Regions from separate parts of the Homo sapiens genome. Here regions 1, 3 and 4 are each linked to region 2. Evidence: fine-mapped expression QTL. A gene starts in region 2. Each other region holds a variant in brackets. All regions are shown on one strand. Distances are from middle to middle.

Region 1 (4,168 bases), 610 kb before region 2:
ACCCATTTGCTATGTGATTGTGAAATCATTCTCAGCCCTGTTGCTTAGTGAGTGGTCTGCAAAAGGACCCTACTTGCAAGACAGAAGCTATGACATACAACCCCTAAAACTTAAATATGTATCTAAAACAATAAGTATTTTTAATATTGTAAATATAACACTATCGTGCCCCATGAAATTAGCAGTTTTTAATATCAATACTTAATCCACATTAGAATTTCCCCAGTTCTCCAGCTGTTTTTTTAAATCAGGATTTAATCTAAGACTAAACACTGCATCTAGTTGCTATGTCTTTTACATCTCTATAATCTTTGTTCATGACATTGACTTGCAGAAAACCAACCAGTTGTCTCTGAGCAGGTCATTTTGCATGAATTTAATTGCTTCCCTGTAAAGTTGTTTGAATTGTTCCTCTTGTCCCTGTAGGTTCTGTTAGCTGAAAGTCGTACTAAAGCCTTGCTTAAATGTAAGTTAAACATTTTAGCAATACTATATCATAGGTGATATATAGCAATACTTCTTATGTATAAGATCAAAAGATACATAATAAGTTTTGTTTTGTTTTTCGCCATTAGTAACCTAAATTTGATTATTGGGTTAAGGTGGTGACAAACTCATCCATCCATTGCAAGCATCAATATGTTCTACTTGAAACAATAGGTAATCATTTGTGAACTAACTTTGTCACTACGTCCAGTTACTGTCAATATTTTTATAACTAACAATTTTATGCTGAAATACTAATTTCATTAAGTTTTGCAGTGTAACAGTTTTTAACTATTTCATTTCTTCTACATTTGCTCGCACTCTTTTATAATGTAGAGCTTTCCACAGCTTTCTATAACTGGGGCTATTTGATTACCTGGAAATAAAGTGCATACTGTTAATGTAAAAAAAAAAACCACTTAATTTGGGGTTTTAAATGGCCAGTTTTCAAAGTAAATTTGTTTCTTGGAAGTGTCAAATGATGACAGAAGATTTTTCTTTGGCTTCTTTCTTATCACTGTGGACTCAGCCTTTCATAAATACAGTGTGTGCAAATCACCCATGATCTTTCTTTCTGATGTCTCAGCTTTGCTGAGTAGAAGCTCCTTCAGACTAGCTTCTGGGTTCTTGACATGATTGTATTAATTCTTACAAGTTTCCTTCCTTTATGGAACAGCAAGATTTCCCAAGATCACTATATACCTTCATTGCCCCACACTTGCCGCCATTCTTCTCGCCAAAGATCTGTAGAGAATGGTCCTAGAAACCAAACTCCGGTCCTAGGTGTGCATCTTGTTCCTGAGAACAAATTACTTCTGTATCATGTTCTGGCCAGACTTAGGGAAAATATGTGAATATATACACTTAAAATCCAGAGTTGAAATCAATGTCTATAATTGTTTTATCACTGAGTTTAATTTCTTTGATTTTCTAATTGCTTCTCTTTCACCTTGAGAGTCTTGAGTGCTATTAACTTTAATGTAAGTATGGATTTGATTTATTCTACAATGTAAATGTTTTTAAATAACAGCACTGCTGTTAGTACAGACAACAAAAGATGTACCATCAAAGCATTAACATGTAAAGTCATTTGAAATAAGAATCTTTTCACTTTGTAGTGTATCACGTATGTGTGTGTGTATACAGAGATACACACATAGTAATTTTTAAAATAAATTATTGTTATCCAGAATTTCTGTCTTCCTAAACATAACTGCCACTTTTACACACTCTCTCTAATTGTTGGTACTCTCACATTGCTGTCTATAGATCCAAATTTTATCTTAAAAAAAACAAAAAATGCAAAACACTGGTCATTACATTTTAAGCAGATTTAGCCACTTGTTTGAGCAATTTTTGTGCTTGTGTGACTCATGTTTTCTGTGAATTAGCTTTTTTTTAAAAGCTATAAATTATGAGTTCTTATTTGTATTTCTTCTTAAAAATATATGTAGTCTCACATAATAGTAAACATCACACTTTTAATTCATCTTGTTGTAAAGAAATAAGATATAGTTTGACGATGGTATTCCTGTCATTAATAAATCATAGGCATTAAATAATATGATCAAAAATTCCACATTAAAAGACTGCTTACATTCTTATAAACTTGTATTTGGACTTCATAATTAAAATAATTCAGGTCCTTTTTTTTTTTTTTTCTTCTTTGAGACAGAGTTTCATTCTTGTCCCCCAGGCTGGAGTGAGTGCAATGGCGCACTCTTGGCTCACTGCAACTTCTGCCCCCCTGGGTTCAAGCGATTCTCCTGCCTCAGCCTCCCAAGTAGCTGGGATTACAGGCGTGCGCCACCACGCCTGGCTAATTTTTACATTTTTGGTAGAGACGGGGTTTCACCACGTTGGCCAGGCTAGTCTCAAACTCCTGACCTTGGGTGATCTACCCACCGTGGCCTCCCCAAAGCGCAGGGATTA[C/T]AGGCATGACCTACGGCACCCAGCTGAGGATTAAAGTATAGGTGGAGACAATTAAATTTTATTTCATATCAGTGGTTCACAACTATGGTACAGTATAATCTGGATATTTTAAGGTCTAAATAACATTTTCTTGGTAAAACTTATTTTAAATAGAAAAATTGAAAATAATGAGGAAGAAAATAATATCCTTCTCTGTAACTGCATTCATTTACTGTTTAAAAAATAATTTGCACTACTTGCTATGGCCATACTTCTTAGTTTAGTTATACTAATTCTATTTAGTAAAAGCGACGATACCAACTTTTAAAAACCAACATGCAATGAGATAGATTAGAATTAAAATTTTATGTATGAGAGTCAAACCATTAGCTCCTTAAGGATAGAAATGTCCTGTTTTTCTTCAATTTGCTCAGTATATGATATACAGTAACTGCAGAAATTAAATTTCAGAGGGATTAAGTGATTTTCCTAAGTCCTATCTTCATAAATTTTAATATATATCTTTTAAACATTTAAACGGTATCCATGAAATTTAATACAAACATTATTAGCAAAAAGCCAGTTAGTTGAAAATAAAGAACTAAGATTTTGTTTTTTGGTTACTATTCCAATTACCTTTCTATTACCCTAGAGCTGAATAAATGGTTATTTGTGTGAATTAAAGTGGGCCACTTAAAAAATGTAAATGTAAAATAAAGCTATTTTATTCCCCTCTTGTGTAAACAGCAGTTTTCCTGTAAATCAGGGTGTGTTTTAAAAATCACCATCCCTTTGCTTAAAGTTGTGTTATTCTATATAAAGAAGATTGGTTCTGGTGGTGTCCTGCTGTGGTAAATTTTGAAAAGATGTCGAAAAACTTGTCTTATTTGCTTTGAAGTAAGAAACCAAGATAAAACTGAAATAAAATTAAATGGAACTAGACAACATTTCATCTCATGCTATTTTTTCGGGAAAAAAAGTCCAAATGTATATAGTAACCTTGAAAGTAAGTCTGTAGACATTATCAAATCAATCTAAATTGAGTTAGTGTATATGTGGTAGGCAGAAACTGGTAGAAATTAGTTTATCTTCCCCAGACTCTTTCTGTTTTCTTTGTACAAAGTAGGATAAACTTGTTTTTAGACCTGATTATGTTTCTTTGTTGCTTTTTTCCCCCTTTCCCTAAAAGGGCAAGGATTGTCCATATTTTGTTCAATTCACACCAGGCGTTAGAACAGGAAACCATTAAAAAGCCCTAGGCACATGTATGACATCTGTAGCTATTATTGGAAAGATGTGTTGAATATAAAACCTGAAACATTTCCAAATAAGGAATATAAACAATGATCCCCAGTGTTTTGTAGTTTCACTGCTTATAAACAACAAATTGAAGCTGTAGGGCTGATTCTTGTGATATACATACATGTGAACAACCTAGCCCACACATATTCCTCTTTATCTTATTAACAGGATCTCTACAAAATGCACTTCAGTCCCATTAGACAAATGGTAAGGCTGTTGTATGACTAATCTTAGTGGACATTTTAAAAGCTTATTTTAAATATCCATTGCTTCTTTTATTTAAATGTATCTTTTTCTAGTTGGATCCATTCATTCCTAGAGCTTCTCATTTATAAGTTCAGATTGTATTGAGAATATTTGTGTCAAAATGCTTGATTCATATAGCACTTTCTGAAATAATTTTGCTAATCTTCAAATTGTCTATTTGAATAAAAACAAAGACATTAATTACAAAAAACTTTTGAAAAGA
Region 2 (4,168 bases):
ACAAAACTGATTCTTACTTTTCTCTACTCTGGAAGCAGCCTGATGGGGACCTTCATCCCTGAGACCCCAAGACCAGAAGTCCAGGGTTGTCATTCTTATGGTTCTCCAGTGGGCTTAGGTTTACCTTTTCTCTCTTCTTTCCCCCTTTCACAGTGCCCTTCACCTAAACCCTGGCTACATTATTCTCACAAACAGGAGTCTCCCACATTGGGCACTGGCAAAAATGGTTTGGCATGCCTGGTGAGTGGTGGGGAGAGGTGATATTAAATGGCCCTCTCTATTCAGGGACTGTCACTACAGATAGCGTTCTTTGTCCTTAGATTAGCATCTTGGCAATGACATAAACCGGGATCTCTGCTTAAGGTTAATAATCCAAACTGCTCTTTTACTTTGTTAAATATTTAAGGCTTGGAGTCATTCTTTACAATTGAGCTTTAAAGAGGAGAAATGTAAATCTGGAGTTTTTAATAATGTGGATGTGCTCTCAAGCCTAGAAAGGAAGGAAGAAGGAAGGAAAGGAGGGAGGAAGAGGAAGGAGGGAGGCAAAGAGGGAATGAAAGGTAGCATTTAGGCTAGCCAAGAGACATGCTCCCTGGAAGAACTCAGAGGCCTCTGTGCTGTGCCTTTCCCAACCAGGCATCTGAGATTAACAGTGTGATACTCAGCCTGTGGATTTCCACTCTAAAATCCCGCGCCACCCCCCAACACAGCTTGGCTCAACTATTTGCAAATCACTTCTGATTCAATTTTGTTTTGGTTATCTCAGTGTAAATAACAGTTAAGTGGGAGTTACAGATTTTTCAAACACTAAAAGTGATAAAGCTAATGGGCAAGTCCAGATAAGGAGGGAAACCACCCAGAAGAATCCACAAGTACAAGCCAAGAAGAAAATGGGTAGTCAGGTGTGTGTTTCTCGTCACCGAAACTGTATTTTTCTTAATCTACAGAAAATTTTACTTTCTTAATTTAAAAAAAATCTTAATCTGTAAATATTTTTCTGAATTTTCTTATTTTTCATATACCTCTTTTGTGGCAGAAAAGGTGTACATGTGCAGGGTGTAATTTAGGCTGTTTCTGTTGCAGTCTTTATGATAATGTAGTAATAGGTGTCTGGTGAAGCAAGACAGTTTGGAATCCACAAAGCCATCCTCAGAAACAAAGATACAAGTGTTTCCCCAACTGTTAGCTTGCAGTTCCCTCTAAACAGTTTTCACGCCTCCATTTAAAAATAGTTGGCATAATGATGTTTTCTTTCTCTAGGCTTTGTGACCACGTTTCCATGGGGGAAAATGTGAATAGACGTAGTTACAGTAGCATTTGGATGAGACGCCTTCAAGCACCTATACTTTTTCGGGGGAACTTGATGGAATCCAATTTAATTACCTGAAGAAATTATTTGCTGAAGAAAGTCTTTCCTCTTTTTAGGGTAGTTACAGTTAAAGGCGCAGGGGTAACGAAATCCTAACCCAGAGAGGAGCAGAGCATGTTTGGGACATAACAAAGGATCTGAGTAGTAAACGCAGCGAGTGTTTGGGGTTTTATTCAGACCGGGCTGACGGTGTGTGTCGCCGCCACGCACCGCTGCCTGTTCGAACGCATGGCTGAGCTGCCGACCGGCTCGCTACCCCAAACACCGTACGCCACCCAACTCCTCTTGTAACGCCATCGCGCGTGGCATTGTGTTGGGTTCTGCGTGTGTGGCATCGGAGTCGTGGAATTTAGGGGGAACAAGGCTTTTCCCCCCGTCCCCCCGGGGTCTCCCTTGGGTGGGGGCGACACGGCCAAGGCGGCGCGCCCTGGGGGTGCCCGGGGGCGCTTCTTCCCCAGGGCGTTACGCACCGGCGGCCCGGCGCGGAGGTGCGCGGGGGCGATCGGGAGATGCGGGGCGGGCGAGGGGTGGTGGGATGGGCGCCGCCTTAACTTCGATCCTGCGGCGGCCCGAGAGAAGCCGTCGCCGCCCCGCCCGAGCTGGGTGCCGCGGCACTCTGCTCTGCGCCGCGCGTCTCCGCGGCTGCCTCTTTAATCAGGAACACAGAAGGGGCGGGCCCTGAGCCGGCGCGTAATCGGATAGCTCTGCCGCGGCTCTGACATCCACATGCTGCTCGGCCTGAAAAGGCAGTGGGGAGCCGGAGGGGAGGCAGAGATCGCGAGCGAGGCACCAGCCTGCAGCCGGCCCCCAGCACATCCTCAGCCGCACAGACACTCGGCGAGGTGGAGGTGAGGGCGGGCGCCAGCGAACTCGGAGAGGGGCTCGCTCACTCCCAGGCGATCCCAGCCGCCACCGCCGCCGCACCAGCAGCAGCAACAGCAGCAGCAGCTTCCTTCCTCAGACTCCCCTCGAGAGGCTGGCCAAGCGGGTGTAGCCGTTGGGGGAGGCTCCCGCCGGGGGAACCCGGCGAGGACAAGAGCAGGGCGGCCGCCTTCCACTCGGGCTGTCCGGCGGCGGCTGCCTCCGCCCGTGTGTCCGTCAAGGGTGCCGCGGGATGTGTGTCAGTTTACGCCTCTGAGATCACACAGCTGCCTGGGGGCCGTGTGATGCCCAAGGCAAGTCTTGGTTTTAATTATTATTATTATCATTATTGTTACGCTTGGCTTTCGGGAAATACTCGTGATATTTGTAGGATAAAGGAAATGACACTTTGAGGAACTGGAGAGAACATATATGCGTTTTGTTTTTAAGAGGAAAACCGTGTTCTCTTCCCGGCTTGTTCCCTCTTTGCTGATTTCAGGAGCTACTCTCCTCCTGGTGAGGTGGAAATTCCAGCAAGAATAGAGGTGAAGACAAGCCACCAGGACTCAGGAGGGAAACGCTGACCATTAGAAACCTCTGCATAAGACGTTGTAAGGAGGAAAATAAAAGAGAGAAAAACACAAAGATTTAAACAAGAAACCTACGAACCCAGCTCTGGAAAGAGCCACCTTCTCCAAAATGGATATGTTTCCTCTCACCTGGGTTTTCTTAGCCCTCTACTTTTCAAGACACCAAGTGAGAGGCCAACCAGGTAAGCCACTGAAAGTTTTTCTATTTATTGCAACATGGTTTCCCCTTTAAAAGTGACCGCTAAAGCAGGAAGGCCACGCAGAACGGCACAGAAGAAGGCTCCCTCAGTACTCAATAATTTAAAGAGAGATCCCAGCCGGCCCTTCCTACACCACCACGGCTGCTAAAACCCAACTTTCCTCTCCTGCTAGGAGTGTGTGTGTGTGTGTGTGTGTGTGTGTGTGAGTGTGTTTTGAAACAGAATTTGGCGGTGTTCATATGTCACATATGGACTGAATCAAAGGTTTAAAAATACTACAAAGCCTTTGCATTACAGTTTTTGGGAATTTTTTTTCCCTGTCTTGAAGCAGAACACATCTCCCTTGAGTTTCTCCAACTAGCCAGTGAAATATAAATCATTTGCATTCCCTCCACTTAGCTACATTGAGCAATGTTAACTGAAGGGCTTGGGAAAGACAAGAGTTTAGTTTTGGTTTTCAGATGCTGTAGATTCTTTGGAGAATGACTGGTTATGCTTCAGAATCATAAGGCTCAGGCTGGTGGAGCAAGTTGGCTTGTGGCTGAGATAGGGGCTTGGGGTTGGGTGCTGCTGGCAACCAAGACGGTTGGTCTCTTCTCTCTTCATCCATGTGTTGTCTGGGAAAGTAAATCGTACGTTCTTTTAGAAATTATTATTAGCTAAAACAAATTGCAGGCCCTCGAAGGTCTCTCACTCTTGTGAAGTGGTTAGAAACTTTTGAGTGGAATTTGTTCTCAACCACTGCCAAAAAGGGTGTGTGGACAGGCTGCTGTGGAGATAAGCATTTCGAGGCCCAGAACAGTCTGGGGACCGCATTTGTGGGGAGCGGCAAGGGGTATGCTCTGGAAAGGGGAATCCATGGGGAATGCAGTGGGGTTTGTGCTTCCTTCTCGGACCACTCTCTAGAGTGAGCCTCCCTACCCCTCTGAGAACAGTGTCTGGAATCTAACAACAAAACTCTTAGCAGCTGCTACAGGTGATTGGAGATGGAGAAACCATCTATGGAGGAAATGGGTGAAAGAAAGGCGAAAAAGCCTTCCTGAAGTGCCCTCACCCAAGGCACTTGCAAGGCGATGGCGGCAGTGGTAGAGCTAACTCTGCAGCCTCCTTGGCATCCCCAGAACATCAGCTAGTGGATCCTAGCCTTG
Region 3 (4,168 bases), 30 kb after region 2:
GACAAAGGGAGGAAGGGAAGGTCTCTGTGCCCTGGAGTTTGACTACTTGGGTTCAATGCCTGTCTCTGACCTTTCCTCCTCATGTAACCTTGGGCAGGTCACTTAACTGCTCTGAGCCTCGATGTCTGCATCTGCAAATGGATGGTAATTGTAACAGGGCCTGGTTTGGATGAAATGAGGATTAAATGAAATAATATCTGAATCAATGGCCTGGCCCATAGTAAATGCTCAATAAAATGTGAACAGTTTGCAGATATACCAGCTTTTTAGTAAATGGGTGGTACAGATGCAAGGCAGAAATTCAAGGAAATGAAATTTACTTTAAAAAGTCTGACCTGACAGTGAGCTGACTTCTCCATAAAGGCTAGGTGACTGTACTGAGCCTAAGGAGCAGGTGGCCTGGCTTCAGGCCTGAACCGACCAGAGACCTCAGCATTGTGCAGATCTGCCTTGCAGCCTTTTTAGACATCGTGCAGCTTCTTTGTTGGGAAGTTGTATGTGACAGTGCTGTTTTTTTTCCTCCTAATTTCCTCACAGGTTTTAATGTAAGGATTAATAAGACAGTGTTTGTAGATGTCTTTGAGCCTCCTGGAAGAAAGGCACTCCAGGAGGTGATAAATTCTCTGGCCTGGATAATCTACTCATGAAATATGGAACTTTGAAAGTGTGAGAAAAATCTCAAATCACTTTGACAGCATTTTAATTATAGTTGATTTGTTTGCCGCTAATAGTGAAAATGCTGTCAGCATGATTTGAGATGTTTCTTCCACTCAAAATGTTATATTTCATGTTTTTGAGTCACAAGGCAACATTTTGGTTTTCAGATACAACCAGAATAGCTCAGTAAATGTGTTGGGGCACAAAGACAGAGAGTATAAAATGGATCAAACTCCACGGAAAGCATCATCGTAGCACGCATTCTTCTCAACATGGAACACCAGCCTGAAGTCCCTTATTCATTTACATTTATTTACTCAACAAAAAGTGAATGAGACCTCCTACATGCCAGGCACCAGGGAAGTGTCGTAAATTCAGCAGTGAAGAGGCAAGGTCCTTGCCTTCATGGTGCTTATTGTCTGGTGCAGGAGACAGATCATAAACAAATAGGTATATTGACAAGACCTTTCCAGATTATAATCATAGCTATGAAAGAAGTAAGATGATGGTGAGATAGAGAATAAGGGCATGCCATCTGAAATAGGGTGGTGACAGCAGGCTTCTCTGTGGAGGTAACATTTGTCCTTAAGCCTGAAGGATGAGCAACAACCAGCCCTGGAAAGCACCAATGAGGAGTACTGCAGGCAGAGGAAAGAGCGCTTGCAAAGGCCCTGGGGTTGGAAAGAGCTCACCATATACAAAATGTCTTCAACATCTTATGATCTTATGATGAGCAGTGTGAAAGGAGGCCTTGCTTGGTTGGCAAAGGTTATGATGTCAGGACTTGGGCAGAGATGTTCTGATACGTAGACCCAAAAGAAGGGGCAGAGTATTCTTCCTCCGAAGACCTAAGTACTCTATCTTCGATACAGAAATCCCCTTCCAAGTGGTTCTGTGTGGCATCCCTAAAGCTGGATTCTGACAAGGGCCAGACATTTCGGTGCCCTGAGAGAAGGACCTAAGCTTGGTGAATCTTCCAGCACAGGCTCCGTTGACTAACCCAGCCTTTGGTGCCCTGCTGGGAAGTGTCAAGCGTGGAGACAGTTATGGAAACTAGAAAGCCCTTTTTCATGTTTGCCTAGTGATGAGAGGAAGAGATGAGATTGTTGCTTTTTCATATCTCTCCCGTGGACTCTTAAAATTAACTTCACTGTCAAAATTTCCCATGGCCCAAATGTAGGTTTGGGGAGAGAAATGTAAGACTTTGAAGTTGAGAAAGAAAGTAGAGAAAGCATTCTCTAGACAAATGCTCACCATGCAGACTTCAGAATCTGTGAGGAGACAAATAAAAAGGCACTCGGGGAACCGTTTTAGAGAGAAAATAAAGAACTGGGAGTAGAGATGGCTACTTCAGCTCAGGAAAAAAATAAATAAAACAATACAAGGTAGTGTTAAAGCTTTGAAAGGAATTTTTCGTTTAGGAGAGATTATGGATAATGAAATGCAAACACTCTAGTTAATATGTCTGTTAGCTGGTTTATGTTGCCTTCTGGAAAACGAGTGATACGTTCTAAGAGGAGCAGCTTTTCAAGTTATCCTACTTGACTATCGTTGGGGTGAGCTCTGAGTCTGTACCCCGGATTCCTTTACCAAACACTGGATATTAGACACTAGATGCAAAGCCGTATTTATTCCAAAGCCAGAAACTTCCTAAGCCTCTGCCTAACTCTTCACAAATGAACCTGACAACACTGAAATTTCTAAGGAGATTTACTCCAGCTGTAGCAAATCCCTCATAATAAAAAATTTCCCCAAATGAGTCAGTCACACAGGAGGTAAATGAGACATTCTGTATGAAGTCAGCATGTCATTTGGAGTGTGCCCTTTATATAAAAGGCCCAGCCAGAAGACCATGTGGTTAAGTGGGGCTTGTCCACAGGGCAGAACCAGAAGACTGGAAGTTGGGGGGATTTCAGCTGCC[G/C]AACTGTAACTCTGTGTCACTTCCCCTCAAGCAAACCTTATAGAAAAATCTAGTTTTTCTAAGAAGTTCAAGTAAGGTTTGTTGATTATTTGCTTCACAAAAGGATTCAGCAGAGGGGTCCTTTAACTAACAAGCTCAGAGAAAAAATTTATAGTATGATTGAATTATATGAAGCTTTTTCAAAAATGCATCCCTTCTCTATATGTGTGTTAGATACATAAGGATGTATTTGTTGCAGGCAGCATTACAAGAAGGGATTTGGGGTGGTCTGTATCCGTTGAGTAAATTGAGGCAAGCTTGTAACAGTGGCATTTGTTGGGCAGCCCTGCTTCATTGCTGATTCTGTTAATCCCCTAAATGACTCCATGGGTGATTAGGCAACCAGATAAAACCCTCTCACTTCTGATGAACAAGCCAGTGGGATGGCAGGGCCTCTCTTTGTCCTTCCTAGAGAAATTGGCAACACAAAGACTGGAACTATCTGGTGAAGCTTTAAAAAAAAAGTTTAAAAAATTATTTATTGAATGTGGGTCATGTCCTTGGCACTGTTCCAGATGTCCCGACCTACTGTGTCTCATTTATTCCTCACTCCAGTTCTGTGACATGGATGATGATGGTGATGATGATGAACTTCCTTCTACATCTGCTAAATCATGACAGCTGGATTCTTTTACAAAGAAGAGAGAAAAAATTACCAATTATCCTACCACCCATGTCTGTCGCCATTGTTCATATTTTAGTAGTCTTTCAGACTTCCTCTGTATGTTTATGTGAGGAAATGTATGTATACCTTTTAAAACATACTTTTAAAAAATCTCCTTTTTAAAAAGTTAACAGTATAGCGTGAACATTTTTCCATAAAAACAAAAAATTCTAGACCTGCAGACTATTGATTGTAGCAGGAGAGTATTCCATTTTATAAATATCCCAGATGGATTCACCCTCCCTCTACGGTTGGGCTTTGAAACCATTTATAAGCAAAATATCCTCCCACTTTTTATATTTTTTCAAAATATATGCACAAAGATGCATATGCATCTTTGCACAATTGTCTGATTATTTTCTTAGGAAAAATTCCTAGCAGTAGGATTGCTGGATTAAAGGCTATGTACATATTAACTTCTGTCACATTTCACCAAAATGCCTTTCAGAATGTTTGAACAGATTTCCATTCCCGCTGATACTACACCTCTGCTCATTTGTTCCATTTCTGAAAACAGGGTCGCTTCTGCTCTGTGGCTCAGCCTCCTTGCCTGTGAAATGGGTGTGAAAATACAACAAATCACAGTTCACATTTACTTAGCACTCACTGAGTGCCAGACTATGGACTAACACTTTAGATAGATTAGATTTTGTCATTTAAGTCCCACATCAACCCTAGGAGAAGACTGTAATATCCCTACTTTACTCTTTTTCTCCCCATTTCTGAGGCTCAGAAAGGTTCAGTAACTTGCCTGAGGTCACCCAGCTAAAAAGTGGCCAAGCTGGGGTGCAAGCCCAGCTCTGTCTGCTTCTGGGATTGGGACTCTTGCGCTCTGGGCCATGCATTTCTTAGTCCAGATGAGTTGTCTGATTAATGAACATGGGTAG
Region 4 (4,168 bases), 190 kb after region 2:
ACAGTTGTGTGTCACCACGCCCTGCTAATTTTTTTTTATTTTTTTGTAGAGACACATTCTATATTGCCCAGGCTGGTCTCAAACTCCTGGCCTCAAGCTATTCTCCCAACTTGGCCTCTGAAATTGCTGAGATTACAGGCATGAGTGACCATGTCCTGCTAATTTTTAAAAAAAAATTTTTGTAGAGATGAGTTTTGACTAAGTTGCCCAGGCTGGTCTCAAACTTCTGGCCTGAAGCTATCCTCCCATCTTGGCCTCCCAAATTGCTGAGATTACAAGCGTGAGTGACCACTCCTGTGAGATTTTTAAGTAGGCACGTTTGCTCTAAACAAAATATGATTCCTTCATAAGGAAGAAGACAGAATAGATGTTGAATCAGTAACTGCAATGTTTGATGTTGATTGAAATGAAAAGACTGGGCTTATTTTTATTCATAAAAATAAATAGGGTTTTTAAGAGATGTGTTTCAGCATGTCTATCCACAGACAAAGATATGACTTAATTTTATTTATGTAAAATTCTGCTGAGAAACTCATGCTCATCTAGCCAGTGGAAGTATCCAATTAGGGGGTGCAGGGCCTTTCTTTTGAAATAAATCACTCAGTTGTCAGAAATTAGCACAGCCCCTCATCATTTGGGTTCCTTCATGAATCATCAGGCCACATCCTTTTCCATTTATGTGACTGTGTTGTGTTGCAAATTAAGTTTTAAAAGACATTTTTTTTCTCAAAGAAAATGTAAAGAATAGAGTACCCCCCACAACCACCACCCGGGATAATGAACTATAGCTACTGTCATTCCAGGAGGGCTTAATGACAGTGTTCGATGTGTGTGTGGACAGCCGAGGCTTCCCCCAAAGTTGTCTCTGTGAATGGGCTTCAAGATGTTTTGACTATTATCTGTTACAAAGAAACTTACTATTAATTGCATATTGTCATAGCTGTTAGTCCAACATAACTGTTAGCCCAACAAAGCATTCTCTCCTCAGGAGAAGGGGATGGGGACACAGCCTAATTTTCTTCCACTGGGTAAGCGGTTTCTCTAAGTTCCTCGCTGCTCCATTCCTTAAGTTTTCTTGGAGAAAATCAAGTTGAGGAAGGACTCATTCTTCCCTGTGGATGACTTCAGCTCTCTTCCAGGCAGGAGTGAGGATGGCCCTCCATCATCCCAGGATCCACCTGTGTCTGGGAAACAGCAGGAGCGGCGTTTCTCAATGAGCTGTACAGAGGACACCAGGGACACAGGCATTAGGGCTACACATGCTTCGGGTTGCTCCGATGGTGGTGGCGACTGCTTCTTGGCCTCTCCCCCATACTCCCTTCCACCTCCCATGTGACCTGATGCTGGAGAAAGTGTGGTTTAGCGGGAGGCTGATGGGGAAGTCCTGTGGGTAATGAGTCAGAAAGAGGAGGAGCAAAAGTAAGACAGAAATGCTTACAATGTTTAACTGGAGGGAATTAACTGTGATATAACTCCAAGAAGAAAGTAACAACATCATTATTGCGCAAGATTCAGGAGTTTGATTCCATGTTGGACAAATGCAGGGAGATGAACTGATTGTACCCCTGGTCCATTCCCTACATCTCCAAAGACTGATCTTAAAACACGGATCCACTCACATCCTTCTCCTTCTTATTTATTTCCAAAGGCTCCCATTGCCTGCTAGATAAAGCCCATACCTCTCAGCCTGGCATACAAGTTCTCATACAGATGGACCAGACCTTGTCTCCTAGCATTGCTTCCACACCCCCAGCCCTCCCACAGCCACACCGAGGCCACAGTGAACTGTCACTGTCCCCAGGCTCAGTGCACTTGCATGCCTTCACACTCTGGCTCCTGTTGCTCCCTTTTCCTAGATGCCTTCTCTTCTTTCTTACCTAATAAACTCCTGTTCATCCTTCAGCACTCAAATTCAATGTCATTTCCTTTGTAATGCCTGTCCCAAGCCAGGATTCATCTTACCTCCTCTGGGCTCTCTGCACTTGGCTCTGACCTCAACCACAGCACCAATCATATTGCATCATCATATTTCTAAGTCCTCTATTAGGTTTTACATAATCTCCTT[C/T]TCACCAGGAATTGTGTCTTATTGACTGGGATAGTCCCAGTCAATGTAACCAGTACAGGTAGAATGAAAAGTAGAGTGTGCTGGGGGATGGGAGGAGGAAAGGATGGATGGATGGATGGATGGATGGATGGATGGATGGATGGATGGATGGATGGAAGGACAGAGGCATGGAAGGATAATTTGTATTATATTAATATTAGGTATCTTGGACTATTAAAGAGGATCTACATGCCTATGAACCGAAAGAAGTCTGTAAACAAAGAATCAAATCATTGAACTGAGACTCAAGTGATCCCAGTCTTAGTTGCTTTACAGGTCCCAGTGTCCCAATCTAATAACTGAGTAATACAGCTCCTGCTCTAATGTTCTGTGAGCCAGTGATAGTCTAAATCATTGCCATCCAATAGCACCTTCTGCAGGAATGGAAATGTTCTAAAATTTATTCTGTCCAATAGGGTAGCCATTAGCCACATGTCACTATGTGCACTTAAAATGTGACTAGTGCAACTGAAGAACTACATTTGTGATTTTATTCAACCTCAATTAATTTTAATTGAATATTTAAATAGCCACATGAGGCCAGTGGCTACTATATTGAACAGCACAGGTATAAACCACTATGCTCAAAGCCTGTGTTATACTTCAGTGTACTGCTACTTAACACCATCAAAGACATTGCTATATAGGCTCAAACTGCACAGATTCTTCTTGATGTGTTGATAAAGACACCTATGTTGGATGAAGTGAGTGGTGTTCTACCCTCTCTCATTTCTCAGCTAAACATAACTCTTCCACTGACTTTGGCCCAGCCTATCACATGTACCTGGCCTGGATCCAGACAGTTAGAATTATGAGAATCAGCTCAGAGATGTCCAACCAAGAGATCAAAATTTCCTGATGAATCTCAAAATATGACTTGATATAGCTCTAATTTCCTTTGAGTCCTGTTCTTTAAAGTTGTCACCCCATTGAGGGCAAAAATGGTATCCTGTTCATCACATTTCTTGTAACATCTAGAGTCATACCTGGCACTTAGCAAGTGATCATTAACATTTGCTGAATTAATTTACCAGGATTGCAAATGAGGAGAAGCATTCTAGTGATGGGCTTGGATTCTCATGACCAACGATGGTACTCCCGAAAGCCTATCTACCCATCAAAGACGGTCAACCATAAAACCTACTCAACGTTCAACAACAGACAAGTCTTAAACACCTTCTATGTGTCTAATCCCAGGCATTTGACCATTTGCTCAGGACCTGAGATACAGAATACATAAGACAAAGTCCCACCCTTCAAAGAACTCAGTTTAGTAGAACTGAGAGACACACAATTAATTCTAATTTTAGTAGCCACTTACTTCAATAGACATGCAGGTAAGGAGCCACATAAGAACTCTTCATTTAATACAGTTTAAGGATCTCTGGATTGGACATTTTGGTGGACACTGAATTGCACCATGCAGATTCCCCTTTAATCAAAGACTTGCTGGCCCAGTTGCTAGGAATGCTGTGGGCAGGCAGCCTCCAAACCTGTCCTTCAGAGAGCCTTCATCCAGTTACTGGACAGTGTAGGAGTATACAGACCCAGCCATCTCGTCCCCATTCAGATAACTCTGAAGTCATTTTAGCTCCCAGAATTGACCTGACTTGAGCCGAGGCTGTCCTTGGGCCTGCAGCAGCAGCTCAATTTCTCCCTCTGTGCCCTTCTGCTTCCTTCCTTTTCCTTTCTGGGGACCATCATTAATAAACCTCCTACATGCTAAACTCCACGCTCAACTCCCTCTGGAGTCAGCTTCCCAAGGAGCCCAACCTGCAGCAATCAGTACCACCAATGTAAGAGAAAACTTGAGAAGAGATAGAATTTGGGACTGTATCACTTCCCATCTGGCTGGCAATGAGACTCCAGCACTCACTTGTGGACAGTGGAACACTGAGCCCCTGGCACAATTCAGTGGTCCGATCTAGTTGTAAAATCAGGTGCTGGCGGATTATTGGGATATACACCAGCAGAGGGGGATGCATTTGCTATTGCAATGTATCAGATATCTGACACAAGATGGCCATGTCTTCATACTCCTACATTGTCCAGGAACTGTATGAA

What was found. PIP is the estimated chance that this variant, and not a neighbour inherited with it, causes the effect.
Region 1: its variant is the best candidate, but not a certain one, in a credible set for the expression of NRP2 in T cells (TOPMed, PIP 0.84).
Region 3: its variant is the best candidate, but not a certain one, in a credible set for the expression of NRP2 in whole blood (TOPMed, PIP 0.65).
Region 4: its variant is the best candidate, but not a certain one, in a credible set for the expression of NRP2 in whole blood (TOPMed, PIP 0.80).

Annotation. Positions count from the first base shown.
Region 1 is chr2:205,070,109-205,074,276 of GRCh38, forward strand. All of the region lies in intron 4 of PARD3B (par-3 family cell polarity regulator beta), which reads left to right. Among named protein-coding and RNA genes, the nearest start is that of PARD3B, 530 kb to the left of the region's middle. The variant C/T (reference allele first, on the strand shown) is at 2,419.
Region 2 is chr2:205,680,362-205,684,529 of GRCh38, forward strand. It overlaps NRP2 (neuropilin 2), which reads left to right and starts at 2,140. Exons shown (of 17, transcript NM_003872.3): 1 at 2,140-3,002. The coding sequence starts at 2,930. RefSeq lists a silencer at 1,541-1,660 and an enhancer at 4,135-4,168.
Region 3 is chr2:205,710,226-205,714,393 of GRCh38, forward strand. The region is part of intron 2 of NRP2 (neuropilin 2); the gene reads left to right. Among named protein-coding and RNA genes, the nearest start is that of NRP2, 30 kb to the left of the region's middle. The variant G/C (reference allele first, on the strand shown) is at 2,579.
Region 4 is chr2:205,867,627-205,871,794 of GRCh38, forward strand. No RefSeq gene overlaps it. Among named protein-coding and RNA genes, the nearest start is that of NRP2, 190 kb to the left of the region's middle. The variant C/T (reference allele first, on the strand shown) is at 2,066.